Homo sapiens: one gene and its partners. The protein of the gene in region 2 purifies or fractionates together with the protein of the main gene of each other region. This does not show direct contact. Each region holds a gene or a part of one and is shown on either strand. Other genes may lie near its edges.

Region 1 (10,426 bases), on a different chromosome or scaffold from region 2:
AAGGCCCAGTTTGAAATTTAACTCCTTCCATAAAGTCTTCCCTGAGCTTGCCTCTCTGGAGGCCATCCCACCCTGCTTGGTGCTGTCACACAGCATCCTCTCCTTGTTCCCATCCTGCTTATCATGTTCTCCTTTACATGCTTCACGTGGATGCCATGGCCACTGGGCTAGGTCACAGGTCCTCAAGGCGCCTGCCTCATCTCTGTGCCCACCAGGTGATGGGCAGGGCCCTGCCGCCGCACTCACCCAGCACACGCTCGCCCAACCCGCCCAGCTCCATGTAGGCTGTGTGGAAGGTCTTGGCAGTGCTCTTGTCCAGTGGGTGCTCCTCGCCGTTGATCATGATGGTGCTGCATTTCTCTAGGATGCGCTCAGGGGCCCCCTTCATCACCATGAGGAAGCGCTTGCCGTGGGGGTCATCCATCTCGTGGATGGAGAGCTGGGAAGGAATGAACTGAGCGTGTTACTTACAGAAAGGTGAAACGCATTCCTTCTTCTCTACTGGTCCATTAAATGTAAAGGAGGAAGAGGCACAATGGCATCCTCAGCATGTTCCGCCCTTTTTCTTTCTGTGGCCAAGTAAGACGAAGAGCTCTAGACTTGGCCCCAGCCCAGAGTGGGGCACCCACTCTGGATAAGTGGAGCTCATCTTTCAAGCAAAACTGGCTGCTTTAGGCAGGCTAGTTGTGGCCGTCAGCGTGTGAAATCTTGTGCCTTGAACAAGATCTCCCAGGGTGCCCGTGAGAGTTAGGGGGCTGCGAGCCTCTGCATCTCACCTCCTCTACCTCCCTGTGGGGAGCAGCCGTCTTTCAGACCCAAACTATTCTGAGCTCAGGAGGGGAGGAGGCGACAGGAATTTCTGCACCTCCTCACCTCATTGTCCACCCAGTTTTCCTGCTTGGATGTCATAGAAAATGGCGGGGTGTGAGGAAGTGGACACTTCCACGTATAATGTTTCAGGAAGACAGCCGAGTCACAGGAGTCTCCATTTTAATAGGAATGCTCTTGACCCAGCAATTCTACTTCTAGATCCATCCTAATAAGATATGCAAAAAAAATCGATATACAAGAATAAAAGGACTAACTCTTATCTAGCCCTTCTGATAAGCCAGGTACTCTTCTAAGCACTCAAGAGGAATCTCAGGAAGCTGGAGTGTTTGGGAGAAAATAAGTTGCAAAGAAAAGTGCTACAATTTTGGGTAAAACAGTTCTTTACAAATCAGTATTTCTTAGACTTCTGGGTATCAAAGATGAGTACAAAAAGAAGTATAGGGCAAATAGGGTTACCAGCTGCTGCTGCTGCTTTTTTTAATGATCAAGTAAAGACATTGAGAAAACCAACCAACCAACAAAAACCAAACCAAACAGAAAACCTCCCAGCTCTATCACTTTCTAAAATATAGGCCTTTTCTTTTTCTTTCTCTCTTTCTCTCTTAAATTTTTTTTTTTTTTTTTTTGAGACGGGGTCCCACTCTGTGCCCCAGGCTGGAGTGCAGTGGCACGATCACAGCTCACTGCAGCCTCGACCTCCCAGGCTCAAGCAATCCTCCCACCTCAGCCTCCCAAGTAGCTGGGACTACAGGTATGTGCCACCATGCCCAGCTAATTTCGTTTTTTGTTTTTTTTGTAGAGATAAGGTCTTGGTATATTGCCCAGGCTGGTCTTGAACTCCTGGGCTCAAGCAATCTGCCTTCTTCGATCTCCCAAAGTGCTGTGATTACAGGTGTGAGCCACTGTACCTGGCCAAGATAAGGCTTTTTACATTTAAAACATAGGGATAATATGAAACACTTTTATGGTATGTACCACGTGCCAGGCACTGTTCTAAGTGCTGTCCACATCGACTTATTTATTCTCAAAACAACTTTAAGGCCATGGGTACTATTATTATTCCCTTTTACAAAGGAGGAAACTGAGGCACAGAGGTTCAATGCTTCACTCAGGGTCACTGAGCAATAGGTGGCTATCTGGTGGCTGAGCTGGGATTTGAGCCCAGGCTAGCAGGCTCCAGAGTCCCTGCCCTTAATCATGGTGGCTACAAAGGATAATCTTTTAAATTAAATACATTCATCTTTATATAAAACTTTATAAAACATTTTCCAATTTGCCGTAAACTGTTTCAAATGTCTTAACAGACCAGTGTGTTTGGGGCATCACCATTCTAATCAATAAGACACAGGCTTTCCATTTTATTTCCTTCCCGCAGAGACGTCTCCTTCCAAGGCCATGACATCTAAAGCCCTGGTGAGGCTGAGCACCGCTCATGTGTAGATATAAAATGACCCTAACAGCATCCAGACAGCACCTCCGACCTCTTCAGCAGGAACTCACACAGCCCCTCTCCCCTTTCTTTTTTTTTTTTTTTTTTTTTTTTTTTTGAGACGGAGTCTCGCTCTGTCGCCCAGGCCGGACTGCGGACTGCAGTGGCGCAATCTCGGCTCACTGCAAGCTCCGCTTCCCGGGTTCACGCCATTCTCCTGCCTCAGCCTCCCGAGTAGCTGGGACTACAGGCGCCCGCCACCGCGCCCGGCTAATTTTTTGTATTTTTTTTTTTAGTAGAGACGGGGTTTCACCTTGTTAGCCAGGATGGTCTCGATCTCCTGACCTCATGATCCACCCGCCTCGGCCTCCCAAAGTGCTGGGATTACAGGCGTGAGCCACCGCGCCCGGCCCCCCTCTCCCCTTTCTAGTCCCACTCTGTGTAGCCACTTTCTCCTCCAACTTGTACATGAGGCCTCATGGAACCTGCTTTTTCTCCCTTTTGCAACTGGGCATGCCTTTACCTTGGGAGATGGAGCTTCAGCAGGGCTCCAAGTCCTGCTGCTGATGGAGGCATCATCTAACCCCATCTTCACACTGTGCACTGATGCGCGGCACCTCAACCTCCTCATCCTCTAGCCACCCCACAGTGTTGTCGTGCGAATGAATAATTTAATACTTGTGGAAATTAGCACAGAATAGCTCCTATTATCACTAGTATTATTAGTATAATAATACTCATCCTAAAACAGTCTTTTAGGACTGTTGCGCACTCTATTTTCACTTTGGTTTTACGTAAGAGATGTGGTTTCTTGGCTTGAGTATTTTACATCATATGTTTCTGGTTAGTTGTCTATTTAGCTAACTGTGATTCTCTGTTGGCTCACTATCCACAAAGAAGACATTTGCAACACAAGAGTTCTTCTCTAGGCTGGGCTTGGTGGCTCACGCCTGTAATCCCAGCACTTTGGGAGGCCAAGGCGGATAGATCACCGGAGGTCAGGAGTTCGAGGCCAGCCCAGCCAACAAGGTGAAACCCTGTCTCTACTAAAAATACAAAAAAATTAGCTGGGCAGGGGGTGCATTCCTGTAGTCCCAGCTACTCAGGAGGCTGAGGCAAGAGAATTGCTTATACCTGGGAGGCGGAGGTTGCAGTGAGCCGAGATCGTGCCACTGCATTCCAGCCTGGGTGACAAGAGTGAAACTCCTTCTCAAAAAAAAAAAAAAAAAAAAAAAAGAGTTCTTCCCTAACCCTAAATTCCATCCGAACTAAGACAGGTGGATAATCACCAGAAATCTCCACACGTACAGTTGTGGTTATTCCATTTCTATACTTTACTGTTGTGCAAAGCCCAAGTCCAGATCCAGTGTGGGCTCTGTGGAAAATCCCATCTGCATGGGGACCTGGGGCTCCCAACTGTCATTTGTCTTAACATGGGGAGGCTGTGATGGCTGACTGTCGGCCAGCCCTGCTTGCTGAGATAACCAGGCAAGGAAGGCCGTCTTCTACCTGAGCAGGGGATGGAAAGGAGACCCCCACCCACAGCACAGGGGCTGGCCCCAGAAAACGACGGGGCTGTCACCCCAGGGGCTGCTCACCGGTCTCCCCAAAGGGCAGGGCTTGCTCCCATGGCCTGAACTGTGCCGCACTCCCTCTGTGTGATGGTGGAAGAATCGTGGACCTGGTGTCAGGCTTGGGAACACTGGGTGCTGTGTGACTCTGGTCTCTCAACACTTTCTAAGGGCCTGCTTCCTCCTCTGAGTCAGGATTCGTCAGTCCTACCTCACAGGCCGGATGCGAACATGGAACAAGGCCACGTAGGTCGAGGGCCTGATGCACTAGAGGTGAGAGGAGCAGGTGTTCGGCCTCCCTGCTGCCCACCTGGCATTTATGCTTTGGAGTATGGCTGCTGCTCCTCACGGCAGAAGGTACCTGATAGTGGTGGTGTGAGTGTGTGTGTGTGTGTGTGTGTGTGAGAGAGAGAGAGTGTGTGCCTGTGACAGAGATGGCTCATTCATAGGAGCAGCCAGGCCCTGATGAAGTCCTTGCCTTTCTTTCTTTCTCTGCCCTGCTTCAGGGTTAGGAAGGAGGCCAGCAAGGGAGCTTGACCTAGGGGACCAGATGCCTGGGTGCTGTATCCCTGACGACTGTCTTTGAAGCCAGGTATCCTTCAAAATATGAGGTAAGCAAAGGATGCATGCAAGTAGAAAGGTCATGCTGCCGATGACAGAGATTACCGGTTGTGAGGAAAAACTCACCTGAAATTTATTAGTAGAGTTAAAAGGGATTTCAGCTACTTTGCGGTTTCTTTTTCTAATTTCCATCACATCACCCAAAATGACCTCTGAGAATTTTAAAAGAGCAGTTTCTGAGGCATCTCCAATCACAGCTTTCTGGGAATCAAAGAAGAAAAATATTTGCAGCACATATTTAATGAACCAACATGCCCTCAGCATAGGACCCAAAACACACCCTCCTGATCCCATTACCACCTAGCTGGAGAGACATTATCACGTGATCAGGGAGGGCCGCAAGACCGTGGTAAGCGTGTAAACAACAGTGCCACCTACTGGCATTAGGGATGTTTGGAGAAGCTGGACCTCTGCGAGGACTGAAGATTTCGTGGAAAAAAGCAGCTACGAACTAGATCTTGATAGATAGGTGGGTTACCGATACACAGAGAAGAAAGCCTTCCAGAAACCAGGATGCGGGTGCAGGGGCATGAGGGGCAGGCTCGTCCGTGAGTGTTCAAGGTACAAGCGGATGTGGAGGGTGTGGCAAGACCTGGAGGGCCCTGAAAGGTAGCCTGAGGTCTAGACTTGAGAAGCAGAAAACAGGGAAGTACGGAGAGATTTTGAGCAAAGTTAAGTGACTATAAAAGCACCATTAAGGGAAATTAGTGGCATTCGAGAAAGACCCCAGGAGGGATAAACCGGAATCAAAGAGGTTTAATTCCAATCAGCCGGTAATCGGCTATTTAGATGCAAGGTACTGCTGACAAATACTAAAGTTATGTATATTTTGAAGCAAGAATGATAGAACTTGGTGGCTTACTGGATATAAGGAAAGGATAAAGTCAAAGATGACTTCCAAATATTCTGTTCCAATGACAAATAGAATGGTTATATCATAGACAATTAGAAAATTGCGGCAAGGCACTGATGTGCAGCCAGGCTGGGTACGGGTGGAAGTTAACAAGCATGATTTGTGCAACTTCCTAGCGGAAGCACACAGCCAGCCAGAGATTCGGGTTGGAGTTGAGGTAAGAAATTAGAGCTGGACATAAAGATTTGGAAGATATCGACAAAGAAGCAATTGGCCAAAAAGAGCATTCATGAGCTGTCTGACGGAGAGAAAAGCAAACAAACAAACAAAAAAATAAGAAAGAAAAAGAGTCAGGGAAGGAAACAGATGGCAAATAGAAAAGCCAGGAGAACAGGGATTCAGTGACTCATTGAGATGGAGAGGAAAAGGGAGGAAGGGAAGGAGGAGAGGGAGGGAGGGGGAGAGTTTATTGTATGTTCCGATATTCCAGGACCCCTTAGAGCTTTGTCTGCAGCCATATTCTAGTTAACAGGAGTCCTTTTATTTTTATTCAATCACACTTTAAATTTCCATGAATGGTGTGTATATTAAAAGGAACTTTGATTATATCCACTTAGCTGGCAGAAAAGTCAGGAAAGTAACTTAGAAGTGCATTCATTTCCAGAATTTTCTGAAGACGCTAAAGCAATATTCTGAAACCTTTTAAGCATCTTTGTATTCTCAAAGCTAGTGTGCATAAAGAAAAATTTCTGGATGTCTTGTGAGTCTGACTTGCTCTTGCAAGCACTGAACAAACTTTAAGCAACTGGAGAGATGAAATCAAGCACCCAATCAGACCTCAGCAAGTGACTACAAACTGGCTGTGATTTAAGACCAAGTGCTGCAGAAGCATTACCTTCATGATGGGGACATTTTCCTGTCCTGGCTTGAACTCTGCTCGGTTACACAATGTTATTATCTTGGATAAGGAGGCCCAAGTCCTAGAGCTTTGGTCAAAGACTTGGTCTGGAAGACAGAGAAAGAACAGTGGCTGCTGTGGGTTGGGCTGGCCGTCCATGAGTCACTGTCCAGCAATCCTCTGGCTGCAGACCCTGCTGTGTGCTCAGCTCAGCCCCAGGATGGAGTCCACAGCTTTGGCCAGACCGAGCTCTCCATAAGACTTACTTGAATGGTCCTCACTGGTGTCAGCCACAAAGATCTGATTGTCGAACCACAGATGGGCCACTGTCATCCTGTTCTGGGTCAGTGTCCCAGTCTTGTCCGAGCAGATGATGGAGGTGGAGCCGAGGGTCTCCACAGCCTCCAGGTTCTTCACCAGGCAGTTCTTCTTGGCCATCCGTTTTGCTGTCAGCGACAGGGTCACCTAGCAGGAGAGGGAAGGACGCTTTGGGAAAAATCCTCATTTGAACTCAGGTCCAATAATACAGAAATAGCCAATGTGAGCTGTGATTGAATTTTAGGAGAGAGCTGGACTAGTTTTAGGGGAGAGGTGTGGTTGTCAGCGCAGCTAAGCTGACCTGGTGGCTTATACGCCGCCAAGAGCCCTCTATGCCACAATCCTTTTTTAAAGATTAAATATGAGATGCTTTTCTTGTTCCTTCATGACTTGAAGAAAACAAGGGACCCACGGGCAGCAAACACGGACACGCTGCTGTGGCTCGTGTTCACGTACAATCACGACGCCTCCTGTGATCCCTAAGCAGGAGTGTGTAAGAGAGACTGACCAGTGCATGCCAAAGAGTTGTCCCAAAGGACACACTTGTTGCTTTGGGGAATTCAGCAGCCTTTATGTTGTTTCATTTTAAAAGCTCCATATTTTAAAGATTCTTTTAAACCCCTAGATCTCAAAGGGTTCTTTTGGCTCCAATTTCCCCAAATTACTATCTCCTGGAGTCAGAGGAGACCTGGACTTCAAAAACTTCTTCTCTTTTCTTTGGTCAGGACAATAGCAGGCCAATGATCATGTAGTCACAAAACTGGAAACATAAACCCCCTCCTCTCCTACCCCTTGAGACCCCCACAGGAGAGACTGAGGAGGAGGGGGCTCTTCTCTAGGGACTGAATGACATGGGCCCATACAAACAGCTGGGTCTGGGGTTGGCCAGGAAAGGGCTGGAGTCCTCGGCAGGAAAAATGGGAGGAATTTTTTTTTTTCGTAAGAGAGGTAAGTGGAGTGTGGCAATGTGCCTAAATGCCTAAGTTGTAGAAACTGCCAAAGAAATGTGCGGAAGGCATCAAGCTTCTAGAAAACCTGTGAATGGTGGAGTCTGTCTTATCTAGATCTTATGGGGCAGAGTAAGCTGTGTGAATTGCAGATTGAAAGCATAACGTTTTCAAGGAAAACGCAGTCAAATATTGAAAATATGACAAATTTTTTGTCTCTGTAAGGAACAGTCTATGCAGAATGTTCCAGGGTTGTCGCTGGCGGGGAGGGCGTGGTGCTCTGGACTTGGGGGAGATTGCAGTTTGTGTGGGCGCCTCCCCAGCACCAGTGCTGTGTCCACAGGGCCAGGTGCAGGCTGTCTAACAGCATGGACTCACAGTGACAGTGGCCAGGAGGCCCTCGGGCACATTGGCCACAATGATGCCAATGAGGAAGATGATGGAGTCCAGGACTTGATACTTCAGGGACACAGCGATGATGAAGAAAAGGATGCCGATGGAGACAGCCACTCCTGCCACAATGTGAACAAAGTGCTCGATCTCAATGGCAATGGGCGTCTTCTCATTTCCAACTCCTGAGGCCAATGAGGCAATATGGCCAATGATGGTGCGGTCACCCGTGTTGATAACCATGCCGGTGACAGTGCCTACAGGGGAAGTAGATGCTTTATTCCAGGGGTCCTCAGCCAGGAGGGGTGTGCAGCCAGCTTGCAGCCCTCTCTGGGGGCTGGCACAATCGATAGGCACACCACATTCCCAAGGCCAAGCATCGTCCTCTAGGCCCTTCAGTTCCATGCTTCCTCTGGGATGAGCTTTGTAACGGGGTGTGGCAAAGGACAGACCTGAGAGCCCAGGAGGGAGAAAGGACACAGGTGGACATGTGGGCTGAGAGCCAGAGGCCTTTTACCTTCCAGACACGTTGTGGAATAGAAGCAGATGTTCTTTGTTTCCAGGGGGTTTTCATGGGTAAACTCAGAGGAGCGGGGCTGGGGCTCAGACTCCCCCGTGAGAGATGAGTTATCCACCTAGAAGAAATGTTGAAGGTGGTTCACAGCTGGGTACCTCATTCCCTGCCTCTTATACTGATGCTGGGAAAGACCCCAGAGCCAGCAGGTTTGGAACATGGTCCTTGGGGTGGATACCCCTTGCCGCTTACCCGACACCCCTGAGAAGACAGCACCCTGATGTCTGCAGGGATCTGGTCTCCTCCTTTGACCTCCACAATGTCCCCCACCACCAGCTGCTCTGAAGGGATGGTCTTCTTCTCGGAATCTCGGATGACGAGAGCTTGCTGCAGAAAAAAACCATGACAGATGCCTCAGACCCTGGAAGGACACCGGCCCTCCCCCAAGTCTGTGCCGCACCGAACCCCAGGACAGAGGCCTTGGAACTTCCTGATCACTCTCACTGTTGAGTCCATGCTGTTATGCAGCCTGCACCTGGCCCTGTGGACACAGCATTGCTGCTGGAGCATGAGGCTGTCAGAACAGCAAGAATGAAACAGAAGACTGCTTCACCCGAGGCCTGAAGACTCTAAGAACTACTTTTTCTTGAGCTTATGGAGAGTTCTTGGAACAGAAGAGTCGCTGTTGGCCAGATCTGGCCAAGCCAGAGCCCTGGGCCTCCTAGAAAAGGAGACCACTAAGGGTGAGCAATCCTGGCTGGGCGTCTGGGCAGAACACTGAAGGTGGGGCTGGGGAGGCTGATAATCTTGCGAGTGTCAGGGAAATTTTAACGAGGTGATCTCCTGCTTCAAGCTTGGCAGGAGGCGTCTTTTCCACCCAGAATCTCTCCAGCCCACAGTTCTCTGGGCCAGAGACAGTGTGGACACCTGACAGGGGTTTTTGGGGAAGAAGGGAGCACTGGGCTTCCCCACCAAATGCATTCTGGGGCTCAGGAGCAAAAATGGTCACAGATAAACAATTGCAGGCTGGTCTCCTTGGCTGCCAGTGAAAGAACACTCCCTGACCTTCCACAGGTCCCTTCCAGAACCCAGAAGGACTATCCACAAACACTGAGGAGCAGGAACAGAAGATGCCTTGGGCTAACCAGCACTGCCCTGGGTGGTGCCTCATTTGACCATCAAAATCCTGTGAGGAACTGGGGTTCTGACAGATGGGTTAATTCGCCCACGATTGCTCCGACAGGGAAGGAAGTGGAAACCCGTAGCCCTCAGGGCCCTGTGCCCCTCCCAGCTGAGGCTTCCTCACCTGGGAGTCACCAGAGGCCAGAGGATAGGTGGCTGCCACTCACCTGAGGGATCATCTTATTGAAGCTGGACATGATGTTGGTGCTTTTTGCCTCTTGGTAATAAGCAAAGATCCCCGTTAAAATGACCACCAGACCAAGCACACAGCCCAAGTACACCTGGGTGAGAAGGAGGGCGTCAGTCAGAGAAACCAGCAGTGGGAAGCAGCCGGGCCCTGGGGCTAGAGCTCTCCACGGGAGGATGCAATGCTGGCAGTTACGCCCTGGTATAATTTACAGGCCATGGAATTCGCCCATGTTAAGTGCGCAACTTATTGATTTTTTTTTTTAAGTTTACAGAGCCATGACACCACCCTCCACCGCAGCCTCAGAGCATCTCCATCCTGCCTGGAGATCCCTCCGGCCCCTCTGCCGTCACTCCCTGCTCCTGTCCCATGCCCTGGCATCACCGATCTGGTTCCTGCTTCCAAGGATGTGCCTGTTCTGCACATTTCATGTCAATCCAATCCTATGACATGTAGCTTGTTGCCTCTGGCTTCTGTCTCTTGGCATCACGTTGGCCAATTCAGTTTTGTGGATTTGGTACTCATGTCTCGGCAGGCACAGCTGCTCTCCGTGTTAAAGGAAGAGGTTAGCTTGGGGGAGACAGAACCCCAAACTACTTCACATGGATGCAGATTTTCTCCCCCTTAAAAATTCAAGGTGTTTTGTGTATCCCTCTTCATGCCCACACTGCCTCTAGAAGATCAG
Region 2 (10,698 bases):
CAGGGTCTGTGTCCAGGACGCAGCTGTCTACCTCTGTGCTCCCCATGGAGGGTTACCCAGCTGGGGTCCCGGAATTCACAAAGGGTTATTTGTTTGGTGTCAACTCTCCTGTACACAGCGTTTCCAGGAGGGCAGGGACCATTTGTTTCATTCACAGTGAGTACCTGCTGCCTACCCGGAGTCTCCAATAATCTGCCCTACAACTTCAGTGGTTGTTGAAGGAATTAATGAATGGACAGCTCAGCTCTCAGCTCCTCAGAGGACTGGGCTTATCAAACAGGATGAAACTCTGGCCAGGGCTGCGAGAGAGGCAGGGGAGAGGACCAGGGCCACCGGACCCCAGAGCATCTGCCCCCTTCCCTGGCCTGGCCAGGTCCCAAGGCTCCTCGCAGGACATTTGCCTCACTCCTCCCTCCACCTGGACCCTTCTTCCTCCAGACCCCAGAGTGCCCAGCCCCCAACCCTTGAGGTCTCTGTGCTCATGTCCTCTAATTCTCAAACCCTCTTCTGATCATCGTCAGTGAAATAGCAACTCCAACACCTGCACACGCTCTCCCCAAACCCAAGAGTCAAACATCTCATCCCAGCATTCATTACCCTTTGCTGTATTTGTACATCAGCCTCTGTGCTGACTTGCTCAATGCGTGAATCCACGCAGTAGAACTCAACTTCCACCAGGGCAGGACAGTGGCTGTGTGGTTCCCTGCTGTGACCCAATCCCAAAAGGAGCGCCTGACACTTAATAGAACCTTCACGTTTGGTGTGGGAGGTGCGAACAAAGAAGGGACTGGAAGAAGGGACATCCGAGTCCCCTAAACATCACACGCAGTGGGGAGGCCGCCAGCGTGGCCCAGTCCTATGCGCAGGCACCTTACCCAGGGTGTGGGCTGGGTTCGGGGCTGTCCTTTCTGGTCACGCTGGGCCAGGTGTGCACGGGCAGCTTCGTGGGAGGACCTGAGGTGCCCATGGAGCTCTGGGGGCTGGAGGCTGTGGTCGTCCCGGCTGTGGGTGAAACACAGGTCAACCTTGATGACATCACATGGGTCTCCCACTTACTCTCACCTGTTCTGCTCCAATTTTCACAGACAAGGTCACCAATGATGTGCTGGACAGATGCCCTGCATCCATCATGCCCCACGGCCACACCCAGGCCTGACCAGGGTCCTGGGCCTCTCCTTGTCCCATCCCTAGGTACTGCAGAGCCAGGACACCATTTCAGATGTGAGAGCTGCCCTGCTCACCTGTGGCAAAGGTACGGGTCTCCAGGTTTCACCCCAGCCAGGGAGGGACAGGGTGACCTGGGGGAATGGGGTGATGTTTACTCTGCGAAGGGTGACCCAGAGTGACTGCGAAGCCAGGGCCCTGGGCACAGCAGTGGCTGGAGAGAGGCTGGAAGTGAGGACAGGAAGTCAGTGGGGTCCTCCCTGAACGATGGGACCCGAGTCCACTCAGCCCCAAATGGCAGCCATGCTGCGGCCCCACAAGGCCATTGGACCATCCTCTCAGCAGGAGGGAATGCCCAGGAAGAAAGATCTAGAGAGGGGATGCCCGGTGAAGCCTGGGCGGCGGCCCGTGGTGAATACAGCTGGATAAGGGCCCTTTCCTCCTCTCCCTGGCGCCCTCAGGTGGGATCTTAGCTCCTCACTCCTAGATAGGAAGGCACAAAGGGCGCAGGAGGGACACGTCGCCCCCGGGGAAATGGAGAACAAGAAGATGCTCCGAGGAACCTGGGACATTGTCAGAAGAAAACGATGGAAAAGCAACCACACTGAGGCCACTGGGTTTGTGTCTTGTGAGACAGGAGGGGGCCTTTGAGGGAAGAATGATCTTCGGCACGGGAAAGGGCCCTCAGGTCCGTGCCAGTCTCAGCTCATTTCCATCCACAGGTCCCTTTGCCTGAGGGGGCAATTTCTGGGGTTCCCTCCTGTGGTAAAAGGTGCCAGAGAATAAGGGGGACACACAGGTCAGCCTCAGGGGCAGGATGTGGTTCCCAGGAGCATGAGAACCCCACCCAGGGCTCTGGGGCTCCTTCCTGTGTCCTCCAGTGGCTGCTGCAGGAGCTCCCAGGACAGGGCTGTGAGGCTGCGGCCTCAGGACCCTCCAGACAGGGCGGCATCCATGCAGGCCCCAGGGCAGGGGCAGCCTTGAGTGAGAGGAGCCAATGATGGGGGGGTCCAATTCCCCGTGGGGAAGAGCGAGTTAGACCCAGGCGGGACAGTGGGCACCCTTCAGTATGGATCCGGCCCTTGTCAATACAGGGAGGTAGCAAGGACCCCAGAGTCAGGGGTGGCCTCACAGACCCCACCCAGGAAAGTTTCAGGCCTGAGGCCGTGAGGGAGGGCCCACAGCGGGGGGTCTCCAGCCACAGGGCCAGGGTGCTTTTGTGGGCGCCCACCCTCCCAACACACACATGCAGGTGCACACACACACAAACCACACCACAACTCCTATGCAGGCACGCATACACAAAGACGCACTCACACTCATCCACACACAGCGGCACACAGTGTCCTGACTCACCAACCCCCAGGCTCACACCCTCCTGTTCCACTTCTTTCTTCAGGGACAGAATGACCAGCCCTAGGCTCAGGCAGGCCTGGTGCTGAGAAAAGGAGGGGCTCACCCGGGAACACGGACACCTCAACCTCGACAATGGGATCATGAAAGTCTCGGAGCCACGGTGTATCCACCCCACACCAGTAGGTGCCTGCGTCCTCCTCTGTGAGATTCTCCAGGGTCACTGTGAAGCTGAGGTTTGCAGGACTGTCCCTGATGGACACTCGGCCATTCCTTTTCCCTGCTGACCCTTTGGTCTCCACAATCTTGTCACATCGGAGAATCTGTGGTGGTCTGCACCAGAATTTGTTGAGGGTCCTGTGTTCCTTCTCATAGCGACACTGCACACTCAGGGATCCCCCCACGGGGCCCGCCACGGTCATGGGGTGGCTCAGAGGAAAATAGCCTGAAAAATACAAGCCAAAATCCTGTCTCCTTACCAGAGGGGCCTGGTCAGGGGTGCCGCAGTGTCAGCCCCTCATGGACCCTGGGCGTGTGGAGAAGGCAATGGCAGGCAGGCAGCCTTTGTCCACCCAGGAACAGGGACTGAGGGTGGGAGGCTCCCTCTGTGCAGAGGTGGGAAGGGCATGGGAAGTTTCCATGGAGACTGGAAAGGCAAGGCTAGGGAAACACTGGGTGTGTGCGGGCCTGTGTGTGCATGTGAGTGTGACTCTGTGTGTGTGACTGTGTGAGTGTGACTGTCTGTGTGAGTGTGACTGTGTGTGACTGTGTGTGCATGTGTGACTGTGTGTGCATGTGAGTGTGACTGTGTGTGCATGTGTGACTGTGTGCATGTGTGTGTGAGACTGTGTGAGTGTGACTGTGTGTGCATGTGTGTGAGACTGTGTGAGTGTGACCGTGTGTGCGTGTGAGTGTGACTGTGTGTGTGATCGTCCCAGATAAAATTTGTGATTGGATAACTTTGGCAATGACAGTCACAGCATCACCTCCCACCAGGGCTTCCTGTCTCGGGCACAGAGGAATAGGCCTCCCCCGTGCTGTGCCCTGCCGCCTGCTGTCCCCTGGTGAGGCAGCTGCTGACCGCTCCTGGGTGCTCCTTTGCCCTCCTCCCCTCTCCCTGCCCCACTCCCCTCTATGACCGCTACTCCAGCGCCTGCACCCCTCCCTGCCCTCTCCCACTCAGGACAGAGCTCCCCAAGTCCAGGGTCGGCCCACTCACCTGGGACAAGCAGGAGGAGCAGAGCTGAAGACCGCCACGAGGCCCAGGCCCTGGCAGTCATTCCTGTAACACGAATGTCACCTGCCACTGTGCAAGACCCCAGGAGGGGACAAAATGTAATCTCCTCCCAGCAGATCTGAGCTTCGCTTCTGCTTTTCTTCTGCTCTCTGCTTCCTTGTCCAGCCCTGTCTCAGGTCTGAGGCTGGAGAGGGTCAGGGTACAGGAAGCTCAGGGAGAGAGCCGCCTGGGCTGAGGCCGGTGCTGACAGCTCTGGGATGGTGCTAGTGGCTCCTCTCAACCCTGACGTCTGGCAAAGTCCAGGGTCCCTTGGGTGGCGATGCAGCCACTTCCCCACAGCCCACAGCTTCTGGCTTCAGTGTGTTACTCACACTGCAGAAGGCAGAGCCAAGCTGGGCCATTTCCTACCACATGGGCTGCTCCACCCTCTGTGACATGTCACTTCCTGGTCAGGATGGACAATCTTGTGGTTGGAGGCTAAATCTGCCACCTTCTTTAGCCTTGGAGGTGACCAGAGAGAGGTTGTGTCCCTTAATCTTCAGCTAGGTCCCCGCAGAGACCTCTGCCCCTAAGACCCCCAGCTCTTCTTCTGGCCTCAGAAGTTAGCGCTATGAACCCAGACACCATCTGCATGTCCCTTTTTGGTGCTGAGTCCCCAACCAGGTTAAAATCCCACAGGCTTGGGGAGTTTTCCTCTTGTGCCCCTGCCCCCAGACCTACACACACAGCGGCATCACCCACCCGAGACCCTCCTTTTCCATCTTGTCTTCTTGCCAAAATCCATGCCCCAGTGGGAATCAGGGCAGAGAACTGAGAATAGAGAGAGAGTTCAGACATGTGAAGATGCTGAAGTGGGACTTTGTGGAGGATGTGAGGCTGCGACTGAGCCAGCACACACCCCAGGGCACACGGAGGGGTGTTTGGTGACTGAGAGGACAGTTTGTCATGAGCAGCGGCTGCTGGTGTCTATCCTGGGTCCACTGTGATGGCCAGGGGCCTCCGCAGGGAGCAGACATGGCAGACAGGCCTTCCCAGGAGGCGGGAACCCAGGTCTATCCACACTCGGCATGGCTGGTTCTCCTGACGTGATGGGCTCAGGGTGTCTTTACCCTGGAAAGGGCAAGGAGGCTAGTCAGACACAGGATTTACCTCCTGTCTGTCCTGGAGGGCATCACCCCTTCTCCACCTTCTCATGCCTTAAGCATATTCCTTGACTCTCCCAACCCTCCTACAGATTTCTGTTCCTTTCTTCCTATCAGAGTCAATAGCACCAGTATGTGCACACAGCCATGAGGTTGAGTGGAGAGTGATGGGAGTCTGGGCAAACCTGGCACCATGAAGGGGTCTCTGCACCCTCGACCTGCCCTGTCCTCCCTCCATTTACACTCTCAGGGACACAGCATGCACTGGGGTCATTGGTGTTGATGCCCCCAGACTCACATCATGGGACTATCTCTAGCCCAGTGCAATCCCAGGGCCTCCAATTAGCCCAGTGCTCAGGTCTGGCCTGGGCCTGGCTTTGAAGTATCCCGGCTCTTTCATGGGCTGACCTGGTCTCCCCTTCTGCTCATACCCACCCCTTTCATTCTCCACAGAATCAGCAATGTGATCCCTGACACACACACATGGCCCTGGGGAGGCGCTGCTGAACTCCCAATGGCTCCTGCTGTCACAGGATGGCACCCACCTGACCTGGCCTCTGCACACAGGTCCTGGCAGGCCCCAGCACCTGGTAGGTGTCTCCAGCCTCCTGGATCCAGGTTCACACTGGTGCTGCCACCCTCCCCACTCGGGCCTTTGTCCAGACCCTCAACCTCCCACTCCTCTGCCTGGCTCCAGCCGACAGGGTTGCCTGCGTGTTCCTTGACCTTCCCGGGTTATGGTGGCTCGCTTTTTAGGGGTCCTCATGACCCATTTCACACTTCCCTCTCGTCTTCCTCAGTCTTTCTGTTGGCGAGTCAATGTCTGCTCCCATCTAGGGTGGCCGCCCCTTGAGAGCAGGTGCAGCCTCTTGTCTCATTCACAGCTGTGCCCGTTATCATTCCAGAGTCTGCCAAGTGCAGTTTAACAAACTGGCTGTTGAAAGGATGAATGGGTGAATGGATACATGACATCCTGATGTCCCACTGCCTCAGAGGACTTAGTCATCCAAAGTTGGTGCACCATTTCCTGCCCAGGCTGGGGAGGAGACAGGAAATGCTGTCTGGAGGCCCTGAAGCCACCTGACCCAGGGAGGCATCTGCCCCTGGCAGGACATGTGCACCTGCTCCTCTCTCTGCCTCAGGGCTCCTCCTCCAGGGATCCTGGCGCTCACCCCCTCCTTTCTCCTGATCCCTGCTTGCTCAGCGCCTATTAGAGGGGCTTCACCACAGTCCCCCTCAGCTCCTGCACAGCAGTCACCCCACTTCTCTTATTTCATTCCGTGACTCTTTTCATCTCTGACTTTTATATTTCTTCTGGAATTTATGCACGTATTTTTGCATCTGTTTATCATTTCTATCCCCCGCCTGGAATATGAGCTCAATGAAAACAGAGCTCCTTGCCTGGGTGTTCACGGCTGGACTCCAATGCCAGGTCAGTGTCTGATACACCAGAAGCTCCCATAAGTATCTGCTGAATGTAAAAATAGGTGAGGACCCCCAGGCGTGTCCCTCCTTGACCTGGTGGACTCATGGGGATCATCTGCCTCACAGGGGTCTTGGGTGTGGCATCCCTGGAACCGAAACGATGGTCAGCTGATAACGTCTTCCTTTGTCTGGATAAGCAGACATGGTCTGCACTAGTAAGCAAAAGACTCAGTTAACTACCACATTAAGAAGTCACGGCCCTCAACCAATTTCCATATTTGAGTCAGTTAAAAGCCACAGCCCTGGAATGAAGGGGAGGTCAGGTCCCCTTGAGGAAGGAGGAAGGAAAGGCCTGGCTACCATGCCACAACTCACACTGATAATCTTCTACCAGCCCTCCCGCAGGGACCAGAAGACACTGGCCAGGATGTGTCTACATAAGGAACGGAATTGTCAGGTTTTGGGGGGAATCCTGGATCCTCTTCTGCAGGGACCCCAGTCCTGAGAGGCCCAGCCTGGGGCTTAGTCCACTATTCTGAGCAAAGGCCTGTGGAGATCAGGGAACAATGGAGTTTTCACCCAGGTCTGACTTAGTGGGCATGATAGGTCCAGAATCTATGTATTGTCATTTCTTAAAGTTCGAAAGCATCATTGAATTGACACACTCAGCAAATGGAAGCAGCCACATATTCTGCACTCCTGGACCCGGGGAGTGTGGGCCATTATGGTGGCAAAGGTGCAGGGGAGTCCTGGACCTGCTCCTCCCTGTGAAAACGTTGAAGGAAGCAATGCCAAGCTCCTGGAGAAATGGAAAGGTGCAGAGAGGGCATCAGGCACTTAGAGGTGTTGGTGACAGCTCGAGGTTCAGCTGGCCAGGGCGTGCACATGAGACATGGAGTCACAGCTCAGGGCGTCTGTGTCCATCAGGTTCACGTGTGATTCATGGATCAGGCACAGGGAAAAGGCTGAAGGAGGCTCACAGAGAATTCCAGGAGATGTGGAGAGAGCAGCCCGGGAGGGAGTGGTCAGGAGGTCATTCCAGTCCCGCAAAGGGGTTCTGTCGCAGTGCAGGGCCTTGATGGACAGTAGATGCTACTGGTTCTCACCCTCTGGCCAACTCTGCCTGCTTCCAGAGCTTCTCTGAGGTCCGTTCACCCAGACGACGGCACCCAGCATGCTCAGGAGCAGGGGCAGCTCCAGGACCAGGAGCAGGACGTAGGGGCTGCTGAACAGGGAGCTGTGGGGACACGGTGATGGCAGTGAGTCATCTCCCCAGGGGAAGCCCAGGTGCCCTCCACCTTCTGCCTGTCTGTGAACCCAGGTCCTGTGGCCACACAAATCCCTGTGAGGACAAACTCTGTATATGACAACTCCTCTAAAGAGATCATTAGACCCTGACCTTCAGCCTGAGAGTCCCTGGAGTCTCAGGACTGCCTATAAGGAAGCACGTGGCCGTGAAAATGGTGCATGAGGACAGGGAGGGATCCAGGTGAGAACCACACCCACAAGATCTCTACATCCCGGGGTTATTCACTGGCGCATGGAATCAGTCATGTAGTTTGATGCCTGTATGGCCATCATTTCCCGAGAAGGTGAGGACTATTCATGTTATTCACAAGTAACTGGTACCTGCCCTCTGGTTGCAAATATCAGCCTGTAAAATTCATGGTTGTTGAAGGAATGGAAGGAATGAATGAATGGCCCAGCTCAGCTCTCAGCTCCTCAGAGGACTGGGCTCATCAAACAGGATGAGACTCGGGCCAGGGCTGCAAGGGAGGCCAGGGGAGAGGGCCGGGGTCACCGGGCACCAAAACATCTGCCCCCTGCCCTGGCCTGGCCGGGTCCCAGGACTCCCTTGCAGGACATTTGCCTCACTCCTCCCTCTGCCTGGACCCCTCTTCCCCCAGACCCCAGAGCGCCCTGCTCCCAAATCCTGCAGGTCTCCACGCTCATGTCCTCTAATCCACAAACCCTCTTCTGATCATTGTCAGTGAAATAGCGACTCCAACACCCACACACATGCTCCCCAAACCCAAGGCACAAATATCTCTTCCCAGCAGTCATCAAACTTCGCTGTATTTGTCTGTCAGCCACTGTGCTGACCTGTTCACTGTGTGAATCCACCTGGTAGAACCCAAACTCCACCAGAGCAGGACTGTGGCTGAGTGGTTCCCTGCTGTGACCCTATCCTGACAGGAGCACCTGGCACTTAGTAGGACCTTCACATTAGGTGTGGGAGGCGTGAGCAAAGAAGGGACCAGAAGAAGAGAGACACAACCATCCCATCTCTCCCCAGCCTACAGGAAAGGCTGCCCAGGTGGCAGTCCTGGGGGCACGAACCTTACCCTGGGTGTGGGCTGGGATCAGGGCTGTCCTGTCTGGTAGAGCTGGGCCAGGTGCACGCTGGGACGTAACGGGAGGACCCGAGGTGCCCGTGGAGCTCTGAGACTGGAGGCCGCTGTCAGGGCTGCAGGGGCATCACAGGTCAGTCTCGGCGACCTCGCCTGAGTCTCCCACTCATCATCACCTGTTCAGCTCTGATTTCCACAGACACGATCACTCAGTACATGCTGGACAGATGCCCTGAGTCCAACACGTTCCACGGCCACACGCAGGCCGGACCAGGGCCCTGGGCCCCTCCCTAGTCTTATCCCCAAGTACTTCATAGCCAGATGAGCACTTTCAGAGGCAAGAGTCAACCTGCTCTCTAGGGGAACGTGAGAGTCTGTGGAAAGAAGACCTGGCTGCAGACCCCATCCCAGCCAAGGAGGGAGGGGTGACATTCACTCTGTGAAGCGTGACCTAGAGTGACTGCGGAGCCAGGGCCCTGGGCATGGCAGTGGCTGGAGTGAACTGGAAGTAAGGACAGGAAGTCAGTGGGGCCCTCCCTGAATGATGGGACCCGAGTCCACTCAACCCCAAATGTCAGCCAGGCTGGTGGCCCCACAAGGCCAGACACTTTCAGGGTGGGGCACACAGAGGAGTCTCCAACAACAGGTGCAAATGTGCTTTTGTGCATGTCAGCACACACACACACGGGTGCACACACACAAACACACCACACAATTGTGCAAGCACACACACACCACACCTGCGCACGCACACACACACACCACAAACACAACTCACACCTGTGCATGCGTGCGCACACACACACCTGTGCATACACACACAGCAAACCCATGCATGCACACACAGACACTGTGTCCTAAGTCACTGCCTGCAACCTCACACACTCCTGTCCCATTTCTCACTTCAGGGACAGAATGACCAGCCCTAGACTCAGACAGGCCTGGTGCTGAGTGAAGGGGGCTCCCCTGGGAACACCGACACCTCCACCTGGAAGACAAGGTCTTGGAAGACAAGATCTTGAAATTCTTGGAGCAATAGTCTATTGACCCCACACAAATATCCACCTGCATCCTCCTCTGTGAGGCTCTCCAGGGTCACTGTGAAGCTGAGGTTTGCAGGATGGTCCCTGATGGACACTCAGCCATTACTCACTCCTGCTGACTCTCCAGCCTTTACAGTCTTGTCACATAGTAGAAAAAGTGGTTGTCTGCACCAGTATTTGTTGAAAGTCCTGTATTCCTCCTCATACTGACACTGCACATTCAGGGATCCCCACTGCGGTGTCTGTCATGGTGCTGGGGCCGCCCACAGCAAAACAGCCTGGAAAATACAAGCCAAAGTCCCAGCTTCTCCTCAGATGGGCCTGGGTCAGGGATGTTCTGGGGTCAGGGCCTCTCGGACCCTGGGGTTGTAGAGGAGACAGTGGCAGGCAGACAGCCCTTGTCCACCCAGGAATCTGAACTGAGGGGTGAGTAGCTCCCTCCCTGCAGAGGTGGGAACGGGGAGGGGGGTTTCCATGGAGACAGGAAGGGCATGGACTGGGAAAACACTGTGCGTGTGCATGCCTGTGTGTGCACGTGCATGCATCTATGATTGTATGTGTGGTTCATCAAGATGGCATTTCGGATTGGATAACTGTGGCAATGACAATCACAGGCACCTCTCCCCCAGGGCCTTCTCTGTCGAGGATGCAGTGGAACATGACTCACCTGCGCTGTGCCCTGGAGCCTGGCACTCAGCTAGTGAGGCAGCTGCTGACAGCTCCTTGATGCTCCTCTGTCCTCCTGCCCTCTCTCCATGTCCCTACTTCCATGTCCAGGGCCCACCCACCTGAGACATTCAGGAGGAACAGAGCTGCCAGTAGCCGAGCAGCCCGATCCCTGGTGGCCTCTTCTCAGATGTCACTTGTCACTGCATCAGGCTCTGGTAGGACAAGGTGGAGTCCCCTCTCCCAGGGTCTGAGCCCCACTTCTGCTTTCTTTCCCTATCTGCTTCCTTGTCCAGCCCTGTCTCAAGTCTGAGGCT
Region 3 (10,426 bases), on a different chromosome or scaffold from region 2:
CAGGAAACTGGAAATGAAGTCGGGGCTCAGGAATGTTAATAATCAGGAAACTGGAAATAAAGAGGCCAGGGCTCAGGAATGTTAATAATCAGGAAGCTGGAAATGAAGTCGGGGCTCAGGAATGTTAATAATCAGGAAACTGGAAATAAAGAAGCCAGGGCTCAGGAATGTTAATAATCAGGAAACTGGAAATGAAGTCGGGGCTCAGGAATGTTAATAATCAGGAAACTGGAAATAAAGAAGCCAGGGCTCAGGAATGTTAATAATCAGGAAACTGGAAATGAAGTCGGGTCTCAGGAATGTTAATAATCAGGAAACTGGAAATAATGAAGTCGGGGCTCAGGAATGTTAATAATCAGGAAACAGGAAATAAAGAAGCCAGGGCTCAGGAATGTTAATAATCAGGAAACAGGAAATAAAGAAGCTGGGGCTCAGGAATGTTAATAATCAGGAAACTGGAAATAAAGAAGTCACGGCTCAGGAATGTTAATAATCAGGAAACTGGAAATAATGAAGTTGGGGCTCAGGAATGTTAATAATCAGGAAACAGGAAATAAAGAAGCCAGGGCTCAGGAATGTTAATAATCAGGAAACAGGAAATAAAGAAGCCAGGGCTCAGGAATGTTAATAATCAGGAAACTGGAAATAAGTCACGGCTCAGGAATGTTAATAATCAGGAAACTGGAAATAAAGAAGTCGGGGCTCAGGAATGTTAATAATCAGGAAACTGGAAATCAAGAAGCCAGGGCTCAGGAATGTTAATAATCAGGAAACTGGAAATGAAGTCGGGGCTCAGGAATGTTAATAATCAGAAAACTGGAAATAAAGTCGGGGCTCAGGAATGTTAATAATCAGGAAACTGGAAATCAAGAAGCTAGGGCTCAGGAATGTTAATAATCAGGAAACTGGAAATGAAGTCGGGGCTCAGGAATGTTAATAATCAGGAAACTGGAAATCAAGAAGCTAGGGCTCAGGAATGTTAATAATCAGGAAACTGGAAATAAAGTCGGGGCTCAGGAATGTTAATAATCAGGAAACAGGAAATAAAGAAGCCAGGGCTCAGGAATGTTAATAATCAGAAAACTGGAAATAAAGTCGGGGCTCAGGAATGTTAATAATCAGGAAACTGGAAATCAAGAAGCTAGGGCTCAGGAATGTTAATAATCAGGAAACTGGAAATAAAGTCGGGGCTCAGGAATGTTAATAATCAGGAAACTGGAAATCAAGAAGCTAGGGCTCAGGAATGTTAATAATCAGAAAACTGGAAATAAAGTCGGGGCTCAGGAATGTTAATAATCAGGAAACTGGAAATCAAGAAGCTAGGGCTCAGGAATGTTAATAATCAGGAAACTGGAAATAAAGTCGGGGCTCAGGAATGTTAATAATCAGGAAACAGGAAATAAAGAAGCCAGGGCTCAGGAATGTTAATAATCAGGAAACTGGAAATAAAGAAGCCTGGGCTCAGGAATGTTAATAATCAGGAAACTGGAAATAAAGAAGCCAGGGCTCAGGAATTATAATAATCAGGAAACTGGAAATAAAGAAGCCAGGGCTCAGGAATGTTAATAATCAGGAAACTGGAAATGAAGTCGGGGCTCAGGAATGTTAATAGTCAGGAAACTGGAAATAAAGAAGTCGGGGCTCAGGAATGTTAATAATCAGGAAACTGGAAATAAAGAAGCCAGGGCTCAGGAATGTTAATAATCAGAAACTGGAAATAAAGAAGCCAGGGCTCAGGAATGTTAATAATCAGGAAACCGGAAATAAAGAAGCCAGGGCTCAGGAATGTTAATAATCAGGAAACTGGAAATGAAGTCGGGGCTCAGGAATGTTAATAATCAGGGAACTGGAAATAAGTCGGGGCTCAGGAATGTTAATAATCAGGAAACTGGAAATAAGTCACGGCTCAGGAATGTTAATAATCAGGAAACTGGAAATAAAGAAGTCGGGTCTCAGGAATGTTAATAATCAGGAAACTGGAAATAAGTCACGGCTCAGGAATGTTAATAATCAGGAAACTGGAAATAAAGAAGTCGGGGCTCAGGAATGTTAATAATCAGGAAACTGGAAATCAAGAAGCCGGGGCTTAGGAATGTTAATAATCAGGAAATTGGAAATAAAGAAGTCGGGGTTCAGGAATGTTAATAATCAGGAAACTGGAAATGAAGTCGGGGCTCAGGAATGTTAATAATCAGGAAACTGGAAATGAAGTCGGGGCTCAGGAATGTTAATAATCAGGAAACTGGAAATGAAGTCGGGGTTCAGGAATGTTAATAATCAGGAAACTGGAAATAAAGAAGTCGGGGCTCAGGAATGTTAATAATCAGGAAACTGGAAATGAAGTCGGGGCTCAGGAATGTTAATAATCAGGAAACTGGAAATAAAGAAGTCGGGGCTCAGGAATGTTAATAATCAGGAAACTGGAAATAGGTCAGGGGCTCAGGAAGGTTAATAAGGAAACTGGAAATAAGTCATGGCTCAAGACTTAATAATCAGAAAATTGGAAATAAAGAAGTCGGGGCTCAGGAATGTAACTGGAAATAAGCCAGGGCTCAGGAATGTTAATAATCAGGAAACTGGAAATAAAAGAAGTCGGGTCTCAGGAATGTTAATAATCAGGAAGCTGGAAACGGAGAAGTTGCGGCTCAAGTTGGAGACTTTCTCTGCCTTCTCTCCTGTCTCCAGAAATTTGTCGCGGTATATGTTAATTGCTCCTTCACCTGCCTTAAGTCTTTTAATAGAATAGAAGCATCCTTTTAGAGTAATTGAAGTTTTCATCAAACCCATAGTGTCGTTTATTCTTTGCATAATAACAGACTAAAGTGATGTTAAAATATCTCTTGCTTTTACAGTGCAATTTTACACATAAAATTACATGTAATTGGCTGGGCACTGTGGCTCATGCCTGTAATTCCAGCACTTTGGAAGGCTGCGGCGGGCAGATCATGAGGTCAGGAGATGGACACCATCCTGGCCTACATGATGAAGCCCCATGTCTACTAAAAATACAAAAATTAGCTAGGCGTGGTGGTTGCGTGTCTGTAATCCCAGCTACTCAGGAGGCTGAGGCAGGAGAATCGCTTGAACCAGGGAGTCAGAGGTTGCAGTGAGCCAAGATTGCGCCACTGCACTCCAGCCTGGCAACAGAACAAGATTCTGTCTCAAAACAGAACAGAACAAACTAACAAACCATGTAATTTTAAAGGTAAAAATTTTAGGTCTTAAAATGTGAGTTGGAGCATTCTAAGGAAGTGGTATTTGGTTGAGGAAACTAAGACCAGGCAAATGATTCTGATCCTTTTCTCATAGTTTATTTAAAGCTGTTAATTTTATTCTAATAACTGCCTCTATTTTTCTAAACATACTAGGATGCCCACATGAAGCAAATAGAAGTTGTAGGCGATAAGATACCGTGTGATGTGATGTTTGTGTGCATGTTGCATATTGTACATCAAGTAAGATGTTCTCTTAGAGTGAAGGTAAAGTGCTTGATAATGTAGAATCAACTTTTAAGCAAAATTTAATAAAATTATAGTGTGGTTTTGGTATTTTCAGATAATTTTTGAAAATATCATTAAAAGTTTGTACATATGAAAATTACTTTTTTTTTTTTGTAGAGGAGTGAATGTCGTTCCTTTTCTAGAACTCATTGGGTTACCTGACAGTGTGGTAAGCATCCTGAAAAACTCCCAGAGTGGAAATGCCCTCACAGCATATGCCTTGTTTAAGGTGGGTACTGTAACAAACCCATTGCTCCTCAGAACTCACTGGTGGTGACCTGCTCACTTTCCCATGAGATTCCATGTTAGCTTCCAATTGTATTTCGTAACTTGAAACGCTGTATTTCATCTCTGATATGTCTGGTGAATAATGTAAGATAATTTTTTTTTTTTTTTTTTTGGAGATGGAGTTTCGCTCTTGTTTGCCAGGCTGGAGTGCAGTGATGCCATCTCGGCTCACTGCAACCTCCGCCTCCCAGGTTAAAGTGATTCTCCTACCTCAGCCTCCCGAGTAGCTGGGAGATAACAAGATAACAAAATAAAGTGGAAGTAAAAATGTGGTTTTAGGAAGAAATGCCTTAAAAATTGGTAGATCATTCATAACTTCCTGTGGTCAAATAATTGTTAGACTTATGTGATTTTCCATGGTAGTAGTCATCTGTTTGACATTGCTCCCGTTGATAAATGGAGATATAATTATTTTAAGTATAATTATATTTGTTTTTTCTTATTCAGTGATCTGCATGCCACCTGATTTGTTAGCAAAATTTAGCATTTATTTTACTGTTTTTTGTTTTGTTTTGTGTGTGGTTTTAAGGAGCAGAGAGTTTAATAGGCAAGAAGGGGCAAGAAGGAAGGGAGAAGGAAGAAGCTCCCCTGTACAGAGACAGAAGGGGGGGGCCTCCAAAGCCAAAAGAGGAGATCCCCCTATTTTACTGTTTTTAATAATTCATCTTTTCTTAGCAAGTAAAATAGGTTTAATCCAAATTGTCTTATATGATAAACCCTTTTCTGTTAGATTTTAACCTAACATATGTTTCATTTTAAAAGTTGATAATCTTTGTAACTATTCTCCGGATTCAGACAACTTTTTTGAGACGGAGTTTCACTCTTGTTTCCCAGGCTGGAGTACAATGGCGCGATCTCGGCTCACCGCAACCTCTGCCTCCCGGGTTCAAGCAATTCTCCTGCTTTAGCCTCCCAAGTAGCTGGGATTACAGGCATGTGCCACCATGCCTGGCTAATTTTGTATTTTTTTAGTAGAGACGGGGTTTCTCCATGTTGGTCAGGCTGGTCTCAAACTTCTGACCTCAGGTGATCTGCCCGCCCTCGGCCTCTCAAAGTGCTGGGATTACAGATGAGACCCACTGCAGCCGGCCTGACAGCATCATCTTGATAGCTTCTATGCCTATGGGTCTTTATTTTGGAAGGGAAGACTCACTGTAAATTGTGGAGTTTAGCCATATTAATCTCATTTTCTAAACTGACAAATATTTATGAGGGTCTGTGAAACTTCTACCTAAGGAAGTTGAAAACACAGAAACTAGATGTTTTATTTTACTTCTGTTGTATAAGAATATCTAAGAATTACAGTTTTACAGCATTACTCAAAAGTAGCATTGTTTCATTCTGTCATCCTCATTAGCATCCTCTGAAATCTTGGTAGATTTCCTCTTTTATTATAATTTTGATGAGAGGGCTAACATTTAATTTTTGAGTTTTTCTACATTAAAGTGTATTAAATTTAAAAATTATCAAGTTTCTAATTATGGTGGGTATAATTTTAACCCGAGTAAGTCAAACTATCATGCTGATGTAAACCTTCCCTAATTTAATTGCTCCTTATCCCACTCCCATAGCATGACAGTTGATAGCACAGTGTGTGCTAGGTGTTAAGTGTTTGTTTTATTTGATTAGGAGCTCCCAGGAACTCAGAATCATGTCTTCTTTCTTGTTTTTTTTCACTGCACCTGGTATTATGTTCTGTAGGTGAATAAAATGCTCAGCACGTGTTTGTGGAGTTGGGATTGAAAATGAGGCTGTAGGCGTCATGGTAGGGAGATGAGTGCCAGTGGTGTTTCTTCCCCCTCACTATTCCTCTGTGAAGTAGGAGATATGGAGGGGATTCTCCTTTGTATTATCTGTAACCCCCAGTTTCTCAAATAGAGCAACAGACACAGATTTATTGCTTCAACAAGACAAAGTCCCCAAATGAAGTATGGCATGTATGGTCTGGTGGCAGTTGGCTACGGGATATATTCACTGACTGCCTCATAATCTCTTTGAAATACACCCAGAGTTTTAGTCATCCTCTGCTGTGTGCTAGGTACCATTCTAGGTACTGGGAATAAACGAATCAAAGAAGACAGTGCAAAATACCTGCCTCATAGGGCTGATAGTGTAGTGAGTGGTAGTGGGTTGGGGAGACAAGGTAAAGTTAGAAATGCATGCACACACAAAGTGTGTGTACGTAGATGATGGTAACTGCTAAGAAAGGAAACCAGGGATGGGGGTATGGATTTGTTTTTCAATGGGAGATGGCACACCTTGCTGAGAAGGTGAGAGAGTTGCTCCTCCAAGAGGGAGGAGCATTCCAAACAGAGAAAATCCGAAAGACAAAGTTCTGAGGCTGCAGGATCCTGGGAGTATTTGAGGGATGCAGGGAAGCTAGTGTGACCGGAATCAGTGAACAGGGCAGAGAATGGCGTGTCATCAGATCAGGACAGCCTTGTTGGCCCTTAAAAGGACTTTGCTTTTTACCCTGAGGACATGGAAAGCCACTGGACAATTTTAAGCATCCTGCCTCTGTTCCATCAAAATCACTTTGGCTGCTCTAGTAACAGACCATGGCGGGATCAGGGGAGAAGCCAAGGGACCTGGTGTGAGGTGAGGTGATTACAGTATTTTAGTTGAGAGGCAATAGTGGCCAGAACCCAGGTGGTAGCAGGAAGTAGTTGGATTCTCGATACGTTTTAAAGACGTGGTTGCTGGGGTTTTCTGATGGTTTGGATATAAATTATGGAAAAGAAAGAGGGGTTGAAGCTTTCTTGTAAGTTTTTGGCCCGGACAACTGGAAGAATAGAATTGCCATTTTCTGAGATGAGTAAGACTTTGAGAGAAGCAGGTTTGAAGTAGGACAGTCGAAGATCCGAAGGTCAGTTTTGAACATGCAGTCATGTGCCACCCAACAGCATTTCGGTTAACCATGGACTACAGACAGTGATGGTCCCATAGGTCCCATGTTTTTATGAATGTCATATTTTTACTGTAACTTTTCTACATTTAGATAGTTTAGGTATACAAATACTTACTGTGGTCTTATAATTGCCTACTGTGTTCGGCACAGTAGTGTGCTGTACAGGTTTGTAGCCTAGGAGCAATAGGCTATACCTTGTGGCCTGAGTGTGCAGAGGGCTACACCATCTAGGTTTGTGTAAGTACACTCTGTGAAGTTTCACACAACAATAAAATCACCTAATGACACATTTCTCAGACCGTATCCCCATTAAGTGACTCACCTGCATTAAGTTTGAGATCTTATTAGATATGCAAATGGAGGTGGTTGTATATACTGGAATTCAGGGGAAAAGTTCAGTCTGGAGATTAAAGTTAAGAATCATCCATGTATAGTTGGCACTAAAGACCAGAGAGTGAGATAGGTAGAGAAAATAAGAGGTCCAGGGATCGAATGTTGTCACACCACGTTCAGAGGTGGGTGAAAGGGGAGGAATTGGCAAAAATGAGAAGCCGCCATGAACTAGAAGGAAGCCCAGCAAGTTGAGGGCCTGGAGCCAAGTGAAGGGAAGGTGAAAGCTGTGTGGGATGGTTCCAGTGGTTCAGGGGCTGGTTCCAAATTGACAACTGGATTTAGTTTTGTAGAGGTCACTGTGACTTTGAAAGCAGTTTTGGTGAAGAGGTATGGGTGAAAGCTTGCTTAACGTGAGTTTAGGAGAGAAATTAGAGATAGAGCAGACAGCTCTTTCAAAGTTTTGTTATACAACACACCTATGCATTTTGTTTTGTTTCGTTTGAGACAGGATCTTGCTGTTTCCCAGGCTGGAGTGCAGTCGTGCAATCACAGCTCCCTGCAGCCTCGAACTCCTAGACTCGAGCAGTCCTCCTGCATCAGCCTCCCAAGTAGCTGGGACTACAGGCACATGCCACTTACTCCCGGCTAAGTATTTTTCTTTTCTTTTTCTTCTTTCTTTTTCTTTGTGTTTTAAGAGATGGCAGGGTCTCATTATGTTGCCCAGACTAGTCTTGAACTTCTGAGCTCAAGCAGCCCTCCCGACTGAGCCTCCCAAAGTGCTGGGATTATAGGCGTGAGCCATTGTACCTGCCAACACCTATGTTTTTTGTTTTGTTTTGTTTTGAGAGGTAGCTTCACTCTTGTCGCCCAGGCTGGAGCGCAATGGTACAATCTCGGTTCGCTGCAACCTCTGCCACCGGGTTCAAGCGATTCTCCTGCCTCAGCTTCTCAAATATCTGGGATTACAGGTGCCTGCCACCACGCCCGGCTAATTTTTGTACTTTTATTAGAGACTGGGTTTCACCATGTTGGCCAGGCTGGTCTTGAACTCCTGAACTCAGGTGACCCACCCACCTAAGCCTCCCAAAGTGCTGGGATTACAGGCATGAGCCACTGCACCCAACCTGATTTTTGACTTAGAATATGATGCAGCCTTTTTACTTGTATGGTTCTCTTTGACCAGTCATCCATCTGCTATTTAGTATTGGTCCTAAAAGTTCCAATTAACGTTAAACCTGTGCATGTCTGCAGCAGGTGTGCCATTTTACTACTTTTGGCCTTGTGTAAATTAGTGGCTAGGATTTGAGACTCAGGGTAGATTGTGATGAGAAGGTAGCATAGGTTTAGAAAAGTCAAAGGAAAGGGATTTGGAAGTGAAGCTAACCTAAATCCCAACAGAGAGTGGTTTCATGCTCTGCCTCTCACCATTTGAAGACATTCAGTTCTAGTTTAGCTCCAGATAGAAAGCATTTGGCAGGATGGCAGGGCTTTTAAGGAATAGAAACATGTGTTCCTCTGTTATTTTTACTGGTACTGAGTCCTCTTTCTGATTTCCAGGTTGACCTGTCCCCCAAGTTTACTAGCATGCGATTAGGGACATCAGTGCTATGATTCTGTTATCTGGGTCAGGATTGTGTAGAGGACAAACATTCATAAAATGAGTTTACAGAAGAAATATCTCTTGTTAGGAGGGAAAACCATATAGGATATTACTACATTAGCTTTGTGAAACAATGAGGCAATTTATTCTGATGGGTTATTACCAAGAATTTTAATTTTAACTTGTTTTTGCTTAAGATGACAGTAATAACCAGGTTTTGATTTGCCTCTGTTTGCTTTTTGCTTAAGATTGCAACACCTGCTCGGTATACCGTGACTTTGGGAGGAACATCTGTCACTGTGAAGTATCTGCGCAGTCATGGCTACATGTCCACGCCGCCACCCGTCAAGGAGTATCTGCAGGACAGGATGGAAGAGACAAAGGAGCTTATCACAGAGAAAATGGAAGAAACAAAAGATAGACTCACTGAAAAGTTACAAGAAACCAAAGAAAAAGTTTCCTTTAAGAAAAAAGTGGAATAAGGTGCCTTATATAGCAGTATAGAAAATTCCTGCACTTTAACCCTTTGGAAACTATGGGCAAAGATACATGTGTCTGATTATTTTTTTGGTTAGTTGCCGAAATATACTAGTTCTCTGAGGGTTAAAGAAGTAAAATACCTTTTTAAAGTTAAATATCACTAGAAAAATCAGTGTTATTACAAGGGAAGAAATGAACCCAGTTTAAGAATTTGCCATCAGTAGCAGTATTAAGCAGTGGTTAATGTCTTAGAAGTCAGACTTCTTTTTCAAGGTCTTCAGAACCACACTTGATTTCTGTTTTGTTGCAGCTGTAATTGACACATACTAGGCAGCTGACTCCTTGAATATCCAGTGTGACCCATAAAATAGTCTGTTAATACCGGATCTTAATTTTTATGTTATTCATTAAGATTTTAACTATATTCAGTACGTAATTTGGAGACAAACTAGCATCATCAAAACTGCCTGTAAATAAGGTGTTTAGTCTTTCTATAAAAACAGAATAGAGCAGTTACCTACCAGTTAAAATATCTTATATGAAGAAAATAGAATAAAGATCCAGTCATATATGTAAATAAGATGTACTGATTGTACGTAAATGAAAAATGGACCCTTTAAAAATTATTTTTACCTGAAGCTTGTCATAATTTTTTTAAAGCAAATATATATATGGTGATGGTACTTTTCAAAGTGTGTATTAGTGGTGATCACCTCAAACATAAACCTCTGTTGTGAATCATTTGTGTCCTTTTCAACTGTCTTTCAGAGGAAAGGTAAAAAATCATTAAACCTTAAATTCATTGTTAAAATCAAATATTTGTCAGCAGTAACTCAAGCTCATGGTTCTCAAGCAGAAAAAGGTTTGGGAGACTAAAAATGGAGTCAGGTTTTCATGGAGACTGCTAACTCCTTGGGGTAGACATGGGCCTTGCCTCAGCAAACCAGTGCAATTTCCCAATGTCTTAGTTTCAGAATTCATGCTGATTTCATTATGGAGTAAAGTTTTAAATTGTGGCTGCTGCTTTTTGTCTTACATTGAAGGGAAATATCCTTGTTTGAGCATTCTACTTGATTTTTTTTTTTTTTTTTTTTTTTTTTGAGACGGAGCCTCCCTCTCTCTCTCCCAGACTGGAGTGCAATGGTACAATCTCGGCTCACTGCATCCTCTGCCTCCCAGGTTCAAGTGATCCTCCCGCCTCAGCTTTCCAAGTAGCTGGGAGTATAAGCGTGTGCCACCACACTCAGCTAATTTTTGTATTTTTAGTGGAGGTGGAGTTTCACCATGTTAGCCAGGCTAGTCTCCAACTCCTGACCT

The links.
Region 1: the proteins of CD300C (region 2) and ATP12A purify together in Homo sapiens (affinity purification with mass spectrometry; 3 studies listed by BioGRID and IntAct, with this or other methods). This does not show direct contact.
Region 3: the proteins of CD300C (region 2) and FAM210A purify together in Homo sapiens (affinity purification with mass spectrometry; 3 studies listed by BioGRID and IntAct, with this or other methods). This does not show direct contact.

The regions. Positions count from the first base shown.
Region 1 is NC_000013.11:24,688,671-24,699,096, reverse strand, and holds part of ATP12A (potassium-transporting ATPase alpha chain 2), read right to left. Parts: intron 9,836-10,426; coding exon 9,722-9,835; intron 8,760-9,721; coding exon 8,625-8,759; intron 8,494-8,624; coding exon 8,376-8,493; intron 8,134-8,375; coding exon of another isoform or gene 8,116-8,133; coding exon 7,847-8,115; intron 6,669-7,846; coding exon 6,470-6,668; intron 6,311-6,469; coding exon 6,201-6,310; intron 4,654-6,200; coding exon 4,519-4,653; intron 440-4,518; coding exon 247-439; intron 1-246. UniProt on the Homo sapiens protein: The catalytic subunit of a H(+)/K(+) ATPase and/or Na(+)/K(+) ATPase pump which transports K(+) ions in exchange for Na(+) and/or H(+) ions across the apical membrane of epithelial cells.
Region 2 is NC_000017.11:74,541,986-74,552,683, forward strand, and holds the start of CD300C (CMRF35-like molecule 6 precursor), read right to left. Parts: upstream 4,131-10,698; 5' UTR 3,798-4,130; coding exon 3,737-3,797; intron 2,963-3,736; coding exon 2,624-2,962; coding exon of another isoform or gene 2,521-2,623; intron 1,253-2,520; exon of another isoform or gene 1,192-1,252; intron 1,003-1,191; coding exon 876-1,002; intron 1-875.
Region 3 is NC_000018.10:13,665,165-13,675,590, reverse strand, and holds part of FAM210A (protein FAM210A), read left to right. Parts: intron 1-3,617; coding exon 3,618-3,729; intron 3,730-8,877; coding exon 8,878-9,111; 3' UTR 9,112-10,426. UniProt on the Homo sapiens protein: May play a role in the structure and strength of both muscle and bone.